4 separate regions of the Homo sapiens genome follow, and all the other regions are reported to be linked to region 4. The links are microRNA targets in miRTarBase. Many come from high-throughput screens and were not tested one by one. Region 4 holds a microRNA gene; each other region holds the end of a gene's coding sequence.

Region 1 (4,997 bases), not on the chromosome of region 4:
GGTAAAAAACAGAAAAAAATACGTATATACACTTCAGATAAAATCTGAAAGATACACTATAAAATGTTTCTCATGGTTCTCTATAGATGCTGACATTTAATTCTTTCTTTGTTTTTATTTCTTATCTTTTTTCTTCCACTTCCCAAGTTTCTTTTGTAATCAGAAAAAATTAAATGTTGAACATGACTGATGTTAAAACTGGAGAGAGGTTACTTTATTAATAGCATTGTATGTCCTTTCAGAAACTTTCTTAAGAAAGAAGACAGCTATAACTAATATAGTAATTTTCTGTAGATTAGCTTGTGTTCAATTTACTTTACTGAATATCAGCATCCCAAACACACTTCAAAAGATATGATAATGTCTACCTACATTATTTTTGAATTTTTTTTCTACAAAACATCTTAAAACGTGGGCCACATGAAATTAGAAAATATTTTTGCCATAGAAAGTTTAATCTTTGAATGATTGTGTTCATGCTGTCAGGGTTAATGACAATAGCAGGATAGCACCTGTATAGTGTCTGGGGCAAAAACCTCAAGTGAATGAATTTTTCTTTATGAGTTCAACTGGATAATCCCTTTTACTTTTCCTTACAGAATTCAATACAAGCCCCCATTGATAAAAAGTCACTGCCTTTCCCTTTCATGCTTTGTGTACTTGATTTTCATTAGTGGTGGGTTTTATGGTGGGTTTTAATATTTGTAAAGAACATATCGTAAAGGAAATTAAATCTTGTATAGCAGAATAAAACTGTGTTTAGTCAAATAATTGGATAAGTTATGTGCATTTTTAATAAATAACTGTGATTTATTTGTACATATAACATTTCTAAAATTTAGTGTAAAAGCTTGGTTCTAAGATACAGTGCAGAATTTAATTATTTAGTACTCGTGAAGGAGCAGATGTCAGTGAGCAACAGGGTGGGCTCTGGCATCCGGTGTGCCTGGGTTCAAAGGACGGCTTCAACTCTCACTGTCTTTGTGCTCTTGATTACTAATTTCCTCTTTTGGAGACGACTTTGTAGAATGGAGAGTGACTATGCTCATCTCAGGTTATTATAAGAAGTAAAGGAAGCAAAATGCATTTCCTTGGTAAATAATCATTAAATAGTGGCTGAGATATCTTAAAGCCCTTTTCACTGAGTATTGTTATTTGTACTACACAATTTAAGATTCAGTGACTTTGTGCTTGCATGTGCTATGGTTATTTCAAGGCACTTTTTATCAGCATGATAAAATAATACATATGTGACAAGAAACTGGTGTTGTATGATAAGCTACCTGGCAGAAGTGACAGAAGCTTCTGTTTGATCTCTGTGTTAATGATAGTTTCCTATTTTTTAATCGCCTCATTTGAATGAGAGTATGAACCTTCACTCGGTTTCTCCAAAATGCTTTATAAAGAAATGTGATCTCTTTATTCTGCTGTGACAGAGGGTAAAAAAAAGGACCAGGCTGTTTTTCAGGTACAAGTAAAGAAAAAAATGGACTTCATTTTGGCCTTTGTACTCTCCCAGGAATGATGGGAGTCCCAAGATACTCATTCTTTTGAACAAATGTGCCAAACACAGACGATTTTGGGTATTTTGTCCTTGGTGAGTGGATGTGGGAGTTATAATTGAAGATGAAAATGAAATAGAAACAAGTGCATCTTGTTGGAATTTACCTTCTTTACTCCCTTTGCTTCTTAACCATCAAGAATTTTTGACATATACCCTAAATTCAAGCCTGAGTGTTAATTTGCAAAATAGAAACCCTGTCCAAGCCTTTAAATACTATTACAGCAAAAGGCAAAGTATAAAACATGCACTTAAAACAGGCATGTGTTTCATCCAAGATGTTAAATCGGGAAGAACTAAAAAATAACAGGTTACTCCTGAAAAAAAAAAGTAATAAAATATACAAAAATATTCTCTATTCATATTTGAATAATCAAATGAAGTAGTCTTGGCTTCCTAATTTCCTTACCCATTCTTGGAATAAATTCTTTATTAGAATGAATGTTGAGACCCTGGGGGATCTTAGGATATTCTTGAGAAATAAATTTGAAGTGCCAATTTTGTGCTAAACGTAGGTAGAAAATGGCGTTTTAGATTTTAAAAGTAAATGGCTAAAAATTAAGCATTATACCCTTCAGAAAGTTTATAAGGTTTGACAATCATTCTTTTAACACAGAAATCTGTTTATTAAACCAAACAAAACAGAGAAAATTATACCAGCCCTCAATTTTTGAATTTTCATTTAAATAAGCAAACTCTAAATCCACATCTTAAAAGATGTTTGTGCAGCTATGTATTTCCAAAATACTCATATTTCAATAAGATTTTTCACATTATATTCACCAACAGTATCACAAAAGTTTTTTTTTTGTTTTTTGTTTACATAATTGTAAGGAACAGTAATTCTAGAAACACTAGAAGAAAAAAGCATAGCAATGTCCACAGTTACAAGAAAAAGTGCACATTACTCGGTCACAATCACAGTCATTACTTGAAAAACTATATGTAACAAGTAGATAAGAAATATCACTGATGCCTCAAACTCATTGTCAAAAACTGAATGACATAAATTTTACATGAAATAAGGCAAATTCAGGAATGCACAAAGAATTTGTAATCCAACCAAAGCTAAACAACAGAAAAAAGTTGTATAAGAAGCATGAACTAAAGTACTTCTCCCTAAATATTTAAAAAATAGGCTTGTCTCAGTGCACAAAGAAAACATCACTCATGTGTATCCCACACTATAAAATAAGAAAGAAGGGTAAAGTATGGGGGATAGGAGGGCACAGTTCATTGTAAGTTGCAGCTGCATCCGCTGAGAGTTCCTTACATTATTTTTAGCTAGAACTGAAAATTATACAAATCATATCAGGAGATGTAATGGTCTTTTTGGAAACTATTTCTGAAAGAAATGAAAAGAAAACTACACACAAGAGTGCAAATTTTCAGATTGTCACTTGCAACCTCTTAACATTCAGTCATCTACATCCAGGTGCTGCTAGAGGGATGCCTGGAGACAGCAGCGGCAATCAGGAACGAGCAGCTCTAAGAAACCAAGGTGTGATTTTTTTTCAACAACATGTCTTGTCATTATTAAAAAAAAAATTCTGGGATGAAAACTGCTATGATAAAGTTGCAGTGTTGAGTGGGGTTTTTGAGATCAGCATGAGAGCAGAAATGCAGGCTTCTCTTGGAAGTAGTTCCTGATGTGACGATTGAAAGAACGTAGGCAAGGGTTTTTCCAGCATCAAGTGTTATTTTTGTAGAAAGAATTTGGAAAGAGGAGAAGGCAAAGGGATGTGGAAAAGGTACTTACAGTAGTTTCTCAAAACAGTTTTCTTTTAGGACCTATGAAAAAGTTACCAAAGTAAAAATGACAAGTTTGAATGAAAAACAAGTTTTCTTTTTATAAAAATTACATATTTTTTTAAAATACGAGATCCTTTTCATTGTTGTTATATCCTGTAGCAACAAGAAATTTGGCTTTTTTTTTTCTTTTTTTTTTTTTTGCCAGGTACTTCAGCTTTCAGTCCAATGAGTCAGTAGCAAATTCCACTAATATTTCAGCTGGATCTTGAACTATTGTTTTATACCACAAGCTTCTTCTGTTTTATCCTTGAATTAAGAATAGATAGCCTTTTATGCCCCTGATATTTATGGTGACACACTAAAACAAAAAGCAATAGGCTGGACATACTAAAGTAGCTCAAGTACTTCAGAGGTCAGAGTTCCTTTGAAGCACCTTAACACATCACTTACGGATCAAGGACAATGTGGCATAATGGAAGTATTTCTCTTAAAAGACTGTGCAGTAAGACCAGAAGTATCTCTGTTGGGAAATCAAAATGTCATTAGTGGAAACTGCAAATTTAGACCTCAGTGAATATGGTGGTCGTCTGTCTCAGTTCTGTTGTAAAATGAGATTTTCCAGTTCATCTGCAGATCGCAATAAAAATGCAGCTGATTCTCGATATCCTGCAACAAGCTGTCTCACGGCATTGATTTCAGTTGGACTCAGCTGGGGTCTGGAGTTTGAGCTGCTGGAGGATCCTGAGCTAGTCGCCAATTGTCTCTTCATGCTGAGATCAGTGGGTCCTAGAAAGAAAATCATCACAAAATTAGACATAAATATTATTTGTTCCAGCATCTTGGATGTGAGCATTCAATAAATTATAGTTGAATGAATTAATGAATTCTTCCACAAGAAGCTAGTGATCTCTTTAATCAAATACATCTACTCTCAGAAAGATTAATGAGCAATGTAATGGTAACCGAGTGGCTTCTCTTCGGTCTTCTCTCAGATGCCGAAATCAGCCTCTGGAAATCACCTCTTGCTGTAGAGAGATGGTGAAAACTTTCTTGGAACATGTGTTTTTTGAAAAATTCAATTTTAAATCTGTCTTCCATATGTTGTAGACGCTTCTCATAGTAGCATAACATGATGGGAATTACAAACATTTTTCATTTGTTACATTCATTAACAGATATCTTAGACCGCATCAATTTGCAATTTAAAAAAACTGTGATGCTAATGACTTTAGAGTACAAACTAGTCAACTTAGCAAAAAGGAAACTAAGGACTAAAGGACTTCAGGAATATGTTTAGAGTTTGACAACGTTTAAGTGGCACAACCAGGACTTGACTTAAGTATTTTATTATTATTATTTTTCATTTCAGGCAGATGTTGTTTACCATGTTGATTAGTATTAAAAGTGTTGACATATTACATTGGAATTTGCTTTAGAAGTGCAATAAGTGATTACTGCAAACAATACCACAGAGAACCTAGACATTTGGAATACTGACTTACGTGTTTAGGAATTTAATGTCATCTCTGTATTTATTTGCACAAAACACATTCATGTGCCGAAACCTTTTTTTCTTACATATTTAAGCCATCTGGTGGGTATGCTTTTTGACAACATTTTGTAAATTTTTACTTAAAAAGTATTTATAAAGTTATTTAAAATCTTTTATTCAGTCATTTGTGTT
Region 2 (4,850 bases), not on the chromosome of region 4:
TGGATGTGAGATGTGCAGTGGTGACGCCCGCCGGCAGGGCCTGGGCCTGGGTGGGGGTGTGGGGTCCCTCTGGGGGTCCAGGGCAGGGTCTGCTCACTGGGCCCACCTGCACAGCCCTCACACTGCCCTCCCTCCCGCACCCTTCTGCCAGGTGATCAAGGCTGGGGTGGAGACCACCTGCAAGTGCCACGGCGTGTCAGGCTCATGCACGGTGCGGACCTGCTGGCGGCAGTTGGCGCCTTTCCATGAGGTGGGCAAGCATCTGAAGCACAAGTATGAGACGGCACTCAAGGTGGGCAGCACCACCAATGAAGCTGCCGGCGAGGCAGGTGCCATCTCCCCACCACGGGGCCGTGCCTCGGGGGCAGGTGGCAGCGACCCGCTGCCCCGCACTCCAGAGCTGGTGCACCTGGATGACTCGCCTAGCTTCTGCCTGGCTGGCCGCTTCTCCCCGGGCACCGCTGGCCGTAGGTGCCACCGTGAGAAGAACTGCGAGAGCATCTGCTGTGGCCGCGGCCATAACACACAGAGCCGGGTGGTGACAAGGCCCTGCCAGTGCCAGGTGCGTTGGTGCTGCTATGTGGAGTGCAGGCAGTGCACGCAGCGTGAGGAGGTCTACACCTGCAAGGGCTGAGTTCCCAGGCCCTGCCAGCCCTGCTGCACAGGGTGCAGGCATTGCACACGGTGTGAAGGGTCTACACCTGCACAGGCTGAGTTCCTGGGCTCGACCAGCCCAGCTGCGTGGGGTACAGGCATTGCACACAGTGTGAATGGGTCTACACCTGCATGGGCTGAGTCCCTGGGCTCAGACCTAGCAGCGTGGGGTGAGTCCCTGGGCTCAGTCCTAGCTGCATGGGGTGCAGGCATTGCACAGAGCATGAATGGGCCTACACCTGCCAAGGCTGAATCCCTGGGCCCAGTCAGCCCTGCTGCACATGGCACAGGCATTGCACACGGTGTGAGGAGTGTACACCTGCAAGGGCTGAGGCCCTGGGCCCAGTCAGCCCTGCTGCTCAGAGTGCAGGCATTGCACATGGTGTGAGAAGGTCTACACCTGCAAGGGACGAGTCCCCGGGCCTGGCCAACCCTGCTGTGCAGGGTGAGGGCCATGCATGCAGTATGAGGGGTCTACACCTGCAAGGACTGAGAGGCTTTTCTAGCACGTCGGGGCGTACAGCTGGAGCAGGGTGCCGGGGGTCCTCTGGGTTGGCTGTCCAAGCCCTGTATCTCCCCCTCTCCAGGACCCAGAGGCGGGGGTTGGCTCTGGTCTGGCGTATGCAACCTCTCTGCTTGTGCCCTGGGCCTCAGCTTCCTCCCTCTGACCCGAGAGCATTGCACCAATGCTTTCTGAGCTTTCTCCCATCCCTAACACACCAGTCCCTGGGAAGCGGCTCCCCATGCCAGTCCATTGGCTTTCCCTCCCCACCTCCTCTGAGGCATGGGTGGCAGGTGCACCTTGGTGACCATGCGGCCTCCGTGTGGGCCACCCGTTGGGGACTGGCCTGGCCCAGGCTGCCCCAACACCAGCACTGTCTTCAGAGACTCAAACCACTAGAAGAGGACGCAGCCTGTTCTGCACTCCCAGGGCCCGGCCGTGCGGGTGCCCAGGCTCGGGGGGACACTGCCGACCTCTGACGTTGAGCACTTCTCTTTGGAGTAAATATCAGTGACTTTTAAATTATTATGATTATTTAACTAATATAATAATTATTATTTTCTCCATCCCTGCCACCTCCCCGGCTGCAGCTCCCCGCTCTCGGCCAAGCCCCAGTCTGGGAGGGCCCCGCCTTCCGTCCCTGACATATTCCCTCCTAACCCTGCCTCTGATCTGCTTAGTTGTTTGAAACCACTAAATCGAGATAGATGTGTGTAGTTAAGGAAATACAGTGAGCTGCGTCTGGCCACAGCCCTTGGGGCTTCTGGAAGCCAGCTCCCCCAGCCCCATGCCAGCCAGCCACTGCCACGTGGTGGGCCAGCCGGCGGCCCCTGCCCTGCACCCTGTGGGCAGACGCCCGGCCTCCAGGCAGCTCAGTGCAGATTCTCGAGCTGGGGGTGGTGGAGAGGGGCGGGCATGGTGAGGGGGCAGGGCAGCCCTTTGATTGGTTCATGTCATGTCATGAGGAAGCTGCTTGCTTTGTGTCACTGGGGGACAGATTGGGACAGATGCCGGTGGAGGCAGTCTTGGGCTCGCATCTGGCCATGGAACGCCATGCTTTATGGCCCTGCTGTTGTGTGTGCTGGGGACAGGGTGACCTGCACTGACCTGGCTTGGTTTGAGGGTGTAGTGTGTGTGTGTGTTGTGAGAGTGTGTGTGCTGGCGTGGTCAGTGTGCATACGTGTGCGTATGTTGTGAGTGTTGTGAGTGCGTGTGTGCTGGCGTGGTCAATGTGTGTAAGCGTGTGTTGTATAAATGCATGCTGGCATGGTCTGTGTGTGTGTGTGTGTGTGTGTGTGTGTGTGTGTGTATACTGGCATGGTCAGCTTGGCTGTGCTGTGCTGTCAGTGGCATGGCGGTGCCTTAGGTTCCCAGAGCCTCTCGCCCTGGGCTCCGTCTTGTGGGTGTCCTGATGGCTGTGGGCTGGGTTCTGGGCGGGTTGCTGGTATGGATACAGGAACTACTGAGTGAATAGGTGTCTCAGAGCCCTAAGGGTCTCCAGAAAGCCGGGGTGTCTGTGTTTTTAAAAGAAAACCTATTTATGTTGCTGTGGGTCTCTGCCGTCCCTGTGTTATAGTACATAAGAACCTTTATTCTCCTGTGGTTCAGAGAGCACCCCGACATGTGCCTGCAGCTGCATCCCCGTACCACAGTGTGGGTGCAAGACGCTGGGTTTGTCCTTTGTCTGGTGAAGCCTGGCTAGAAGGGGTGGGGGTGGTAGCCCCTGCCCTCTGCAGTGTCCGCATCCACTGGTCCCTGAGCAGCATAGCTGGCCACACCCTCATGACATGACAAGACTGTCACTCAGTCACTATTGGGTCTATGAAGGGCGTCAAGTCAGAGGAAGGTTTTTATTTTTAATCAAATACCACATTTAGCTCTATGTCATAAATATTCAGAAAACTATTTTTTTAAACAAGGCAGACCAAAAATGTCTGCTAGCTAGTTGGTTTCTATACAAATACATATTCGAATGTCTTGCTGGATGAAGAGGCCGCTCAGCCGGAGCCTCCTGTTTCATGCGCTTCTCTTCTGAGGGGCAGTAGAGGAGAAAGGGCTGTTGGGAGGGGTTCAGCCCGCTCCTTGGCCAGGGGATCCCAGCCACCTTCTCTGCACCAGGCCCTGCCTTGAGGGACCTGGACCCCCAGGTGGCTTCTGGCCAGGTGTGGGTGGGTGGGAGGGGCCCTGTCTGTGCTCCGAGTCTCCGTGCGTGCAATGATTTCTCTACCTCATCTGTGTGGCCCGTCCCAGAGGGACTGTGGAGAATGTATTTATTTAACAGCTTTGTGTCACAGAACCAGAAACAAATGGAAACATTAAATAAATGTATTTTAAATTATAGCCTCATCTCAGTCTGCTGCCTTCACAGGGGCTTCTGTAGGCCTGGGACGAGGAGGAGGGCCTGAGGAGGAGGCCTAGGAGTTGGCCTCTGCGAAGAGGAGGACAAGAAAGAGGGTTGGAGAGGAGGTGGGCTCGGGGAGGTATGCCTGGGAAGGAGGAGAAATTGGGAGGAGGGACCAGGGAGGAGGAGGAAGGGGGAGGTTTTGGGGAGAAGGGGTATCCACGAAGGAGGACCCTGGGGAGGAGGAGGAACCTGGACAGGAGGAGGGCCCTGGGGAGAAGGAGCACCCTCAGGAGGAGGAGGACCCTGGAGAGGAGGAGGACCCTGGGGAGGAGGGCCTGGGGAAAGAGGAGGACCTGGGGAGGAGAAGGGCCCTTGGGAAGAGGACTTGGGGAGGAGGAGGACCCTGTGGAAGAGGAGGGCCCTCGGGAGGAGGAGGGCCCTGGGGAAGAGGAGGGCCCTGGAGAGGAGGAGGGCCCTGGGAAGAAGGAGGACTTGATGAGGACAGCCCTGAAGAAGAGGAGGACCTGGGGAGGAGGAGGGCCCTGGGAAGAAGGAGGACCTGAGGAGGACAGCCCTGAGGAAGAGGAGGACCGTTGGGAGGAGGAGGACTTAAGAAGGAACCCTGGGGGAGAAGCCCCATCTCCCAGCCACATTTGGCACCTTTGTTGGGCAGGCATCTCCAGGCTGCGTGTATGGCCCCAGCTGACCCTAGTCTCTGTGCTTCCCATGTCCAGGCTGGAGAGCCTGGGGTGCCACAGGAAGCCCTGTCCAGCCCCGTCTTCTCAGACACCTAGCTCCATCCCACTCCTGCCCACAGCCTCTTGCTGAAGGAGGCCCCTCACTCTCTTGCTGGGTCACAAGCAGGGCCTCATCATCCCCCTGCCCTGCATGTGGGGTCTTCTGGGCATAGCCCCTCACCTCCCTGACTCGAAGCCAGTTCCCAGCCCACAGTCCTCACCTTCCTCTCACCTCCATCACCCTTCTGAGCCCACATTGTGGGTCCCCCACCACTGCAACATGCCCTGCAGGAAACCCCTCACTCGCCCTTCCAGACCCTGCCTGCCCCTCTCCTGCCACCTCGCGTCTGGTCTGTGCCCTCCCAGACATCCAGGTCCACGCCCACCACAGCACCGGGGAGGGAGGGGCTGCCCACTGAGGAATGTGGGATTATCTCCCTGATGGGAACAGTCCAGGCTTCCTTTCCAGACCCATGGCCACAGCTCCTACTAAGAGGCCGGTGGGGGCTTCCTGGTGCCGGCCCCTGGCCCTCAGCCTCTGGCCACTGCCGGGTGAAGCCACACTGGATAGCTCTGCCTGGAGGGACAGGCCTGTGCAGGGCAGGGTGGTCAG
Region 3 (4,893 bases), not on the chromosome of region 4:
GACTCAGCAGGAGCTTGACAGGGTGTTTCAGAAACTTGGAAACCTGAAGCAGCAGGCAGAACAGGAGCGGGACAAGCTGCAGAGGTAAGTTCGGGAGCATGGGCTGCAGATTCAAAATGGTCCAGCTGAGATTCCTTTCCTTCACACTTACCTCCTCTTTGTAGGTATCAGACCTTCCTCCAGCTTCTGTATACCCTGCAGGGTAAGCTGTTGTTCCCTGAGGCTGAGGCTGAGGCAGAGAATCTTCCAGATGATAAACCCCAGCAGCCGACTCGACCCCAGGAGCAGAGTACAGGAGACACCATGGGGAGAGACCCTGGTGTGTCCTTCAAGGTAAATGAGAGATGGAACAGGTGGGCATGGGCTGGCAGGTGGAGACAGAAGCTGGGAGATTGGCCTTACCCACTGTCTATACTGTATTTCTCCAAGGCTGTTGGTCTACAACCTGCTGGAGATGTAAATTTGCCATGACTTCCTGGAGGACAGCAGCATGGAGAAAGATCCTAGAAAAGGTCAGACCCAACTCAGGCCTTGGTGTCCCTGGACTGCAAGTGTGGAAGGAGGGAAAGCCTGGTTTACCTCTCTCTGCATCTGAGCTCTGCTACCCATGGAGCAGATGGATGGTGGGAACAGGAAAGAGCTTATGTTACACCTCATTCCCATGCTTAGCCCACCCAGAGCTAACCCCTGTCTTCTTCCCCAGGCCTCTGACTTCCCTCACCTCCCAACCATCATTACAGGAAAGACTGTGAACTCCTGAGTTCAGCTTGATTTCTGACTACATCCCAGCAAGCTCTGGCATCTGTGGATTAAAATCCCTGGATCTCTCTCAGTTGTGTATTTGTTCATCTTCATATGCTGGCAGGAACAACTATTAATACAGATACTCAGAAGCCAATAACATGACAGGAGCTGGGACTGGTTTGAACACAGGGTGTGCAGATGGGGAGGGGGTACTGGCCTTGGGCCTCCTATGATGCAGACATGGTGAATTTAATTCAAGGAGGAGGAGAATGTTTTAGGCAGGTGGTTATATGTGGGAAGATAATTTTATTCATGGATCCAAATGTTTGTTGAGTCCTTTCTTTGTGCTAAGGTTCTTGCGGTGAACCAGAATTATAACAGTGAGCTCATCTGACTGTTTTAGGATGTACAGCCTAGTGTTAACATTCTTGGTATCTTTTTGTGCCTTATCTAAAACATTTCTCGATCACTGGTTTCAGATGTTCATTTATTATATTCTTTTCAAAGATTCAGAGATTGGCTTTTGTCATCCACTATTGTATGTTTTGTTTCATTGACCTCTAGTGATACCTTGATCTTTCCCACTTTCTGTTTTCGGATTGGAGAAGATGTACCTTTTTTGTCAACTCTTACTTTTATCAGATGATCAACTCACGTATTTGGATCTTTATTTGTTTTCTCAAATAAATATTTAAGGTTATACATTTCTTCTGACTTCCTTTATTTTCACAATCATTCAATTCATAGCATTTCCTATATTCTGTTATAATTATTTCATTGATTCATAAATTTCTTTGAAAAATAATTTGGTCTTCTATTGATTGTGAGAAGATAATCTAAGTTTAATTTGGTCAGAGAATATCATCTGTTTAATAAACTTTGAAATTTGGTGAGTGAATTATCTTTTTTACTGATAAAGAGTGATGTCATCTTTTTTAATGTTTCACATAGGTTTGGAAAGAATGCATTTTAGATTGTGTGTAGTATTTTCTATTAGATTATGTTTGCAATTTTTGTTTCAATTTATATCTTATATACTTAATTTTTTGTTGTCTGTCACCTGAGAGGTGTGTTCAAATCTCCAACTATGATAGTGGATTTGTGCATTTGTCTTTATAGTTCCATTTTCTTACATACTTTGCAGTTACTTTATTAAGGTATATGTAAATTTACATTTATATTTTTCTTCTGAACTGAACTCTTTGTGTGGTAGCCTGCTTCATCTATAGGCTAATGTGTTTAACCTTGAAAACTACTAGTTTTAATATTAATATAACTGTCAATTCTTTTGGTTACCCTTTGCTTGACATCCTTTCTCTTGAATTTCCATTCTTTTTTAGTTTCAACCTTTCTTTATATTTACCACTTGTATACAGCATTTAAAGGGTTATTTATAAAAAAAAAAAAAACTCTTGTCACATTTGTCTTTATGATTTTCTAGTTGTGTCAATTTTTTATTTGCTTTCTCTTGGCTTTTTATTTATCCCTTTCATGCCTTTTATTTTTTATTGTTTCTTCATGCTTTTTGTTGTTTGTTTGTTTAGAAGGTCTAATTTAGACCGGCTAGTTTAGCTTTCATAGTTAGCAATGTCTCAAGTTATTTAAAGAATTAAAGACTCTTCATCCTTTTCTTAATAAATGAAGCCTAAACAGCTGTAACCATTGATAGATCATCCCACTCTAAACTATTAAGGTATTTTTGTCCAGTTTATTACTTCTAGCCTGTTTGTGTTCTCATAAATTAATTTTTTAAATTATTTTATACAGTCAATGCTTTATTACTAATTTATTTACTATTTTTGCCCACATTATTTTTACATTTCAGAGCTTTCATGTGGAATACTTTTTCCATCTGAAATAAATGTCTCAGAATTTCCCTTAGAGTTTGCAGACTGTATAATGTTTTAAATTTTACTATGAAAATATTTTTATTTCATCCTTATTCTTGAGAAATGTTTTTATTATGTAGAGAATGCTTGGTAGGCAGTTTGACTTAACACATTGAAGATTAACTCAACTGATTCTCTGGTCATCTGGTTTTGATCCTTGATGATGAGAAGTCAACTGTCAGTTTAAAAGCCCTTCCTATGCATTTTTTTACCCAGTTAGTGCTTTTAACACCTGTATTTAGTGCTCTATAGTTTTACTATATTGTGAATAGTTTGGGACTCTGGTTTACTTATTTATTCATTCATTCTGCTTGCAAATAGTTGAGCTTTCTAAATTGCCACTCTTTCAACAATTCTGGAATATTTTCAGTTTATCTGTTTAAAAAACACCTCTTTTGTATTAGCTTATTCTAAAATGCCAATTAGACATCAATCAAATTTTCTAACTTTTTTCTTCATGTCATGCAAACTTTCTTTTGTAGTTACCATTGCTCTTTCTGAGATTGCATTCTAGATGCTTTTTCTATTTTAACTTTATATAGCCAAGCTATTGTTTTTTCATCAGTTTCTTAATTTTTGATCTTTGATTTTCATTTCAATAAGTTGTATTAGATCTCAATTTACTACTGCTTTTGAATATTTTCTTCTGGCTTACATTTTGAGCTTTTTAAATTTTTTTTTTTAATTCTTGATGTATTTGACTACATAGTAGGTATACATACGAGCTTATTTTTTATTATCTTAATATATGGACACTTCATTATCTTTTTTGGAAAGGTTCATAATATATAACTTTATTGGCCTATCTCTCATACTCCCTGTTTAATATAGTTCATGTAGTTTTACTTTGAGCTGCCTATTTTTCCTAAATTTTACCGTTACGGCCTGATACAAAATTGAGAGAATTTGTGTTAACTTCTGTCAATAGCTTGTGGGCATTACCTGTATAACTCTTAGAAATGTTAAAATGAGTGTTTTTAATGTTTTTTATATTTGTGTGCTATCCCATTTTTCATTCCTGTTGTTTATTTTCTTTCTTATTAGTATTTCCCAAAGGCCTTTTTTCTACTTTATATGTCTTTCAAAAACACAGGTATTGGCATTATTTTCTTTAATGTTGCTTTTAATACATTCTTTTAATTATTTTTTGTCTTTATTCCCTTCTGCTCTAATTTTTAATATTTGTAGGATTTTTAAAAATTAATATTTGATAATACATATGTTCTTTTTTATAGTCCAACAAACGCATTTACATATTTACATTTTTATTTGACCACCACTCTGAGAATAATTCATATATTTTAATACATAGGCTATTGATTATTTCTAAATAGATTATAATTTTAGTATTGATTTTATTTTAAATCAAGGAGGTTTCCTTTGTTGCCCTTGCCTCTCAAATGTATTTGTAATAGTGTTTAGTTCCTCAATGGATTTAAGATAATTTTGTTATTTTTAATGCACCAAATTTTGTAATCTTACTGTTACTTCTTTTATTCCATTTGCTTCAAATGGTATCACACCTCTGAATATTGTTCCTTAAAATTTATTAGTTACATATAGGCTTATGTATATGTGTAGTCATTATATATGTTCTTATAGGGAAGAGATTTTATCATTTTTGTTCATCACTAAACCCACAAGTTCAAGAAAAATACTGATAGAGGGTAGATCCACAAACATTGGTGGAAATGTAAATGGTTGCCAAAAATGAAAAAGGAACACAATGCATACAGGAGGTATTCCAAATTTTTAAGTGTGTCTTGGAAGTTTGTATGAGATTTCACAGAGGTAACACCCCAAAAAAATTTTACTTCTATATTATGACTTCTTTTGCATCTACTTTTTCCAAAATGTTATTTTTTTCTAACAGAGTTCTAAACATTGAAAATCATTTAACACATTGCATTCAGTATTTCTGATCATTTTTATCTAACCAGTTGCTAGGATCAGTTTCTAAAAAACAGCATGAGAGAGAAAACTTGTTCAAAGTACCCTCCTAAAATTATTAAGGTCTTCTAAATTTATGTGACTTATTCTATCAGGTAAATATTCTTATTATCCCAGATAGTGTTGGCAAAGCTAATACTGCACATTCTGTCTGTACAGTTTCGAAATTTATAAAACTAAGGTTTCATTTCTAATACTCTCCCCTGCCATAACAAGATGGGCATTTTCCGCTGCTCTTTAACTCTTATAGTGCTAAACTTGTACTTTTTGCAGCAGTGGTGATCAGTGAGGGTTTTGAATATCTCTAAAA
Region 4 (4,997 bases):
TGTACAAGGTAGTAAATAATGTACCAGACAATGCCTCAACACAATTCCTAAATAAAATATAAGAATGAAATTGATGAGGTTGTGCTTTAAAATACCCTCCAAGAAAAGGCAAGGCCATTATCTGAAAAGTTTGTAAAAACAAGTCCATCAGTGGCAAAGATATATTTCAATTGGGTAGCCTTCTGATGATCTACTTTGATTAAAAATGAAATCCAGAATACCTAAATAAATAGCAACAGAACACATCCTTTTGTTAATCCTCTTCAAACATCACATTTGCTAGGTTCTAATGGGTCCCCGTGGTGTGTTTGGAGTAAGATTCTACTCTAGGAAGTGGCAGTTGCTCCCTCTTTCACAGTTTAATAAAAGCAGTTACTCTCAGCACTATTCATGTGGTTTATCCTGGTTCCACCACTAATACACCATGTGACTTTGAGCAAGTGACTCAACCTCTCTGTCATTTAGTTTCCTCATCTGCAAAATATTGATAATAACAACACTTAGCTCATTGGATTGTTAGGAGGATAAAATGCAATGAAACATGTAAAATGCCTCTGATGGTGCCTGGTAAATAGAAAGTGCTACTATATATGTTTTTTCTTTCTTTTTTTTTTTTTTTTTTTCTGAGATGGAGTCTTGCTCTGTTGCCCATGCTGGAGTACAGTGGCACAATCTCGGCTCACTGCCACCTCTGCCTCCCGGGTTCAAGCAGTTCTCCTGCCTCAGCCTTCCAAGTAGTTGGGATTACAGGCACGCACCACCACGCCCAGTTGATTTTTTTGTATTTTTAGTACAGATGGGGTTTCCCCATGTTGGTCAGGTTGGTCTCGAACTCCTGACCTCATGATCCGTCCGCTTTGGCCTCCCAACATGCTGGAATTACAGGCATAAGCCACCGTGCCCAGCCAAGGTACTACTATATTACATGAGACTGCCTTAGACATGCATGCTGTATGTGCTTTTCTATTAGTAGCAGCACCAGAAAAACCATCCTTCCCTTTCTGAGAGCAGTATGGATCACACATTCACAGATTGTTTAAGCTATCACTAGATTGTGATCTTGTTTACTTTGGTGATGCACTTCTTCTTGTATTCATAGACATAGAAACTGGATTTTAAAATTTGTATGTGTCCAGCTTTCTTTGTGGCCAATCTTTATCATTCAGTTTTAAACAAAATTTGTCCTCTTGTAAGATCCGATCACACGATTCATTTCCTGGAAACATGAAAAAAGACTCCACATATTAGGCTGGAAGCTTGGATTCTAGTCTAGCTTAGTGATACCATGTCAACCTTCTCATCTGTAATGTTTCAGCATTGAGATCATGGCTAAATGTTCATTTTGGTTTTAAATTTCTGATTCTAAAAATTCAAGTTCAGTTTAAGGTTAAATCTTCTTTTAGACCAAGGGAAACAAATGAACAAAAAACTGTATGTAAAATATCTCTCCATTCTGATATATAGTTCTTATTTCCCTAAATTTCTGAATTCTGATGAGAATTGATGCTTTCCCATTTAATATTGTTTCCTTTGAAGTTCCTGAAATTTTCAGGCTAATAAATCCCCAGGTGGCTCTATTTCAAGTGTTACCCTTTGCAGCAAAGAGCATCTCTCTGAGCTTTAGACCTAATTTTGCTGTGAGTATTCTCACCTCGTTTAAGGCAGGAGCAAAACTTCCCATGGATTGCCCTGTCCCTCCTGTGCCATCCTATCTCTGATCAGAATGGCGAGCGTTGACCTGCAAGAGAAGCTCACTGAGTATTTCTGCTCCTTTCTCCACACCCCTCATCACTCCTTCCAAAGGAGAAAACAAGAGCAAGACACCCTACCCGCAATGGGAAAGAGTTATGATCTGAATTATTCAAACCTTAGCACTGTGTATTGATATAATTTTCAAACAGATGAAGGTGGCAGCACTGGAGTGTGGATTTTTCCTTTCTGGTCTCTGTTGCTTCCACAGAGTACAGAATGGTAATGAGGGCCTGAGCCATTTCCCCTTGGAAAAATCCCAAACATCTCTCTTTATCTTTAGCTCTCTCTTTCTTCCACTCTGTACTCTCTCCTGCCTCAAGGGCAGCCCTAGATCAGGTTTGATAAAGTCTGGAGTAGGAGACACAGCACTGGGGCAGGCACCTTCCTCCTGCCATCCCCTCCCTCTTGCGTTTCTTCATGTTCTATTTCTTCTCATCTTGGGAAGTCCACTTTAATTCAACCTTTCCACCGACCTGAGTGTTGACATTAGAGACCCAGGTTTGGGGTTAGGAAAGAGCCACTTGGCTCAGAGAGGAACAATGCTCCAAGAACAGCTGACTTCCTGAAGACCTATGTTGGAGAGGGAGGCTAGCGCCCAAGCAATAAAGATGTGAGACAATGACCGGCTTGGTCAGACTTTCTCTTGCAACTCTTTTGCCCTTGGAAGCTCACCCCAAGAGGTATCTATAGCAAGGCAGGACACAGTTATTTCTGAGTTCCTTTGCCAAATAACACCACACAATAATCACTTTAATTGCAATTCAATTAACATAGCTACAATTTGGTATAATTTTAACTGATTCTATTATTTTCAATAGCAGCTAGTAGGTGATGGCTGCTTCCTTTCTGTACTATTCCCTTTTGATGAAGAGTGGGAGTGGAAGGGCTTCACTTTCAAAATCTCTGCTCCTTTCCCATTCACTATGCAGATATAGCAGAGTCAATTAGGAAACAATGGTTATATTTTTAAAGCCATGTGTTTTAGTAACTAAATGTTGCTGCTTTAGGACTTTATGCAGCTTTCCAGTTCTGTTCTTTTTAAACTTTTGAATATTTTTTCTTAACTATTTCCCAACAAAATCAATTCCTAAACTTTTTCATAATTATTATTCCCTATAAAATTTACTCTTTCACTGGCTAAATTAAAGTCTTGAGTGTGGAGACCATATCGTGTAATTATAATCCTTACCCCCTATTTTACAAAGCACATAATAACAATCACAGGAAAAATACAAATAGCCAATAAATGTAAAGAACCTATTTATTCTTTTGAGTCATCATAGAAATGCACATTGGAACTGTCTATAAAATTAGTAGTGATACTAATATATTCTAATATTTGAACGATGTTCTAAGAGTGACCAGAGAATGTTGCTGAATGACTAGAAAAACTTTTTGGAAAGCAATTCGTCAACATGTGTTAACAACCTTTAAAATGTATATTGTTAAAGAATATTACAAGACATGGAACAATTGTTGGCATATAATGCTAATTTTAGTATTATTCAATAAATATTTATTAAGGGCCCTCCATGTGCCAGGCACTGCTCTAAGTGAACAAAATAAAGTTCATGTCTTCAAGGAACTTCTATGGAAAACAAAGTCAGCTGGTGGTAGTGATGGCAGCAGCAGCCCATCTGGAGCACCTGCTGCAGAGGTGCCAGCTGCAGTGGGGGAGGCACTGCCAGGGCTGCCCACTCTGCTTAGCCAGCAGGTGCCAAGAACAGGTGGGAGCCCCACCCCCTACTGAGTTGGCAGGATGGGAGCCCCTTGCTCCCTGGCACACAGCTACAGCTGCCCAGCCAGGGTTCTGGACCTGGACATTCCTGCACTCTCAGGGGCCCAGGAACCCCCCTGCCCCTGCAGGCTTGAACATGCCTGCTCCAGCTCCCTGTCCTCTCCCTGTTCCCAGTCCCTGCTTGGGGCAGAGCAAAGTTGTGGCTGAGCCTGGCGGCTGTCGCAACCTGGCCAGGTGTGCGTGTCCTCAGCATGGCACTGACACCAACACCCTGCCACCTTGGCCCCCTCTAGGCTTTGGGCATCACTGAGCATGGGTGGGGGGCAAGGAGGCTGAGAGCAGCTCAGTGCATGCCTGCCGGTGCCTCTCCTTATGGACAGCCTGGGTGCTGTGAATGGCATGTTAAAGGCAGACAGATTCCTAGGCGGGAAGGGGTGGGTCTCTGGTGAAACCCCACTTTCAGGTCAGGAACAGCGTGAAGCCTGGGGGCCAGGCTGCCAGTTCTGGGCAAAGGCTACAGCCCAGAGTGAGAACTTCATTGATGACTGTTCAGCCAATCAGATGGTGCATTTTCCAGGCCCACTGTGGCTGCCTGTGGGCCAGTCAGCACACACTTCCTCCATTCTGAGCACATAAAAACCCCAGACTCAGCCAGACTCACACACTCGTCAGGATGACCTGCCTGCAGCAAGGAACTACCCACTTTGGGTCTCCTGAGAGCTGTTCTGTCACTCAATGAAGCTCCTCTCCACTTTGCTCACCCTCCAGTTGTCCACCTACCTCATTCTTCCTGGATGCAAGACAAGAACTCAGGACCCACTGAATGGCAGGACTGAAAGAGCTATAACACAAACAGGGGTGAAACAAGCCACTTGCTTGCTGCATTGTGGGTGATGAGAAGGAGAGAAGAGCTGTGGCCCTTCAAGGATCTCAGACCTAGGGGCTCCCCAAGCCAGGGCTGTGACATCCTTTTTGTGGCTCTGGAGTTCCTGACATCTCTAAGCTTCCAGGCACCACTATGTTCCCCTCATCCAGATGCAGGTAGAAGCCACTTATGGTACATCTGATCCAGCTGCAGCCTTGCACAGAGCTGGCATCTGAGCTGGCACCTGTGCACATGCCTGGAGCTGCCCACCCCTCCATAATAGCCGATGTGCCTGGCTGTGCACTGTGGCTGGACCCCACACTTGTCTGCTCACACAACTCTTGCTGCTCCATGCCTGGCTTGCCCTTGGTAGGCGTGGGATCTGGGCTGGTAGCATGAGCTCAGCACAGCCTGCCAGGCTGAGTGGGCAGAATGAGCCCCGTGGGCCCAAGCAAAACTCAGGCAAAGACGCCACCAGCCACAGAGATTTCTGGCTGGAAAAGTGACACCCTATGGATCCTGTGACAGTAAGTGCTATGAATAGTATGGCCATATGCCCCCTTTGCCTGAGACAGTTTAAGGCTGTTGTCCCAACATAATTATTAGCAGCTAAGTACTACAATAGAGTGATGGGGAGGGTGT

What was found. The annotated mature microRNA hsa-miR-1202 reads GUGCCAGCUGCAGUGGGGGAG and lies in region 4 at 3,410-3,430, shown strand. An mRNA with a match to its seed (bases 2 to 7 or 8) in the 3' UTR can be bound and repressed. Matches are read on the target gene's strand: a 7mer-m8 pairs with bases 2 to 8, a 7mer-A1 pairs with bases 2 to 7 and ends in A, and an 8mer does both.
Region 1: the mRNA of NOL4 is a reported target of hsa-miR-1202. Seed matches in the 3' UTR shown: 7mer-A1 at 3,512-3,518.
Region 2: the mRNA of WNT9A is a reported target of hsa-miR-1202. Seed matches in the 3' UTR shown: 7mer-m8 at 2,417-2,423.
Region 3: miRTarBase lists ZWINT as a target of hsa-miR-1202. Seed matches in the 3' UTR shown: 7mer-m8 at 858-864.

Annotation. Positions count from the first base shown.
Region 1 is chr18:33,848,937-33,853,933 of GRCh38, forward strand. NOL4 (nucleolar protein 4) reads right to left here. Exons shown (of 11, transcript NM_003787.5): 11 at 2,164-4,099. The coding sequence ends at 3,906. Among named protein-coding and RNA genes, the nearest start is that of ASXL3, 270 kb to the left of the region's middle.
Region 2 is chr1:227,917,302-227,922,151 of GRCh38, reverse strand. WNT9A (Wnt family member 9A) reads left to right here. Exons shown (of 4, transcript NM_003395.4): 4 at 152-3,496. The coding sequence ends at 634. Among named protein-coding and RNA genes, the nearest start is that of MIR5008, 22 kb to the left of the region's middle. RefSeq lists enhancers at 971-1,833, 1,834-2,697.
Region 3 is chr10:56,353,996-56,358,888 of GRCh38, reverse strand. ZWINT (ZW10 interacting kinetochore protein) reads left to right here. Exons shown (of 9, transcript NM_007057.4): 6 at 1-84; 7 at 165-333; 8 at 430-512; 9 at 704-1,662. The coding sequence ends at 471. Among named protein-coding and RNA genes, the nearest start is that of ZWINT, 4.8 kb to the left of the region's middle.
Region 4 is chr6:155,943,400-155,948,396 of GRCh38, forward strand. It overlaps MIR1202 (microRNA 1202), which reads left to right and starts at 3,398; the gene lies at 3,398-3,480. All of the region lies in intron 4 of LOC101928923 (a long non-coding RNA gene), which reads right to left.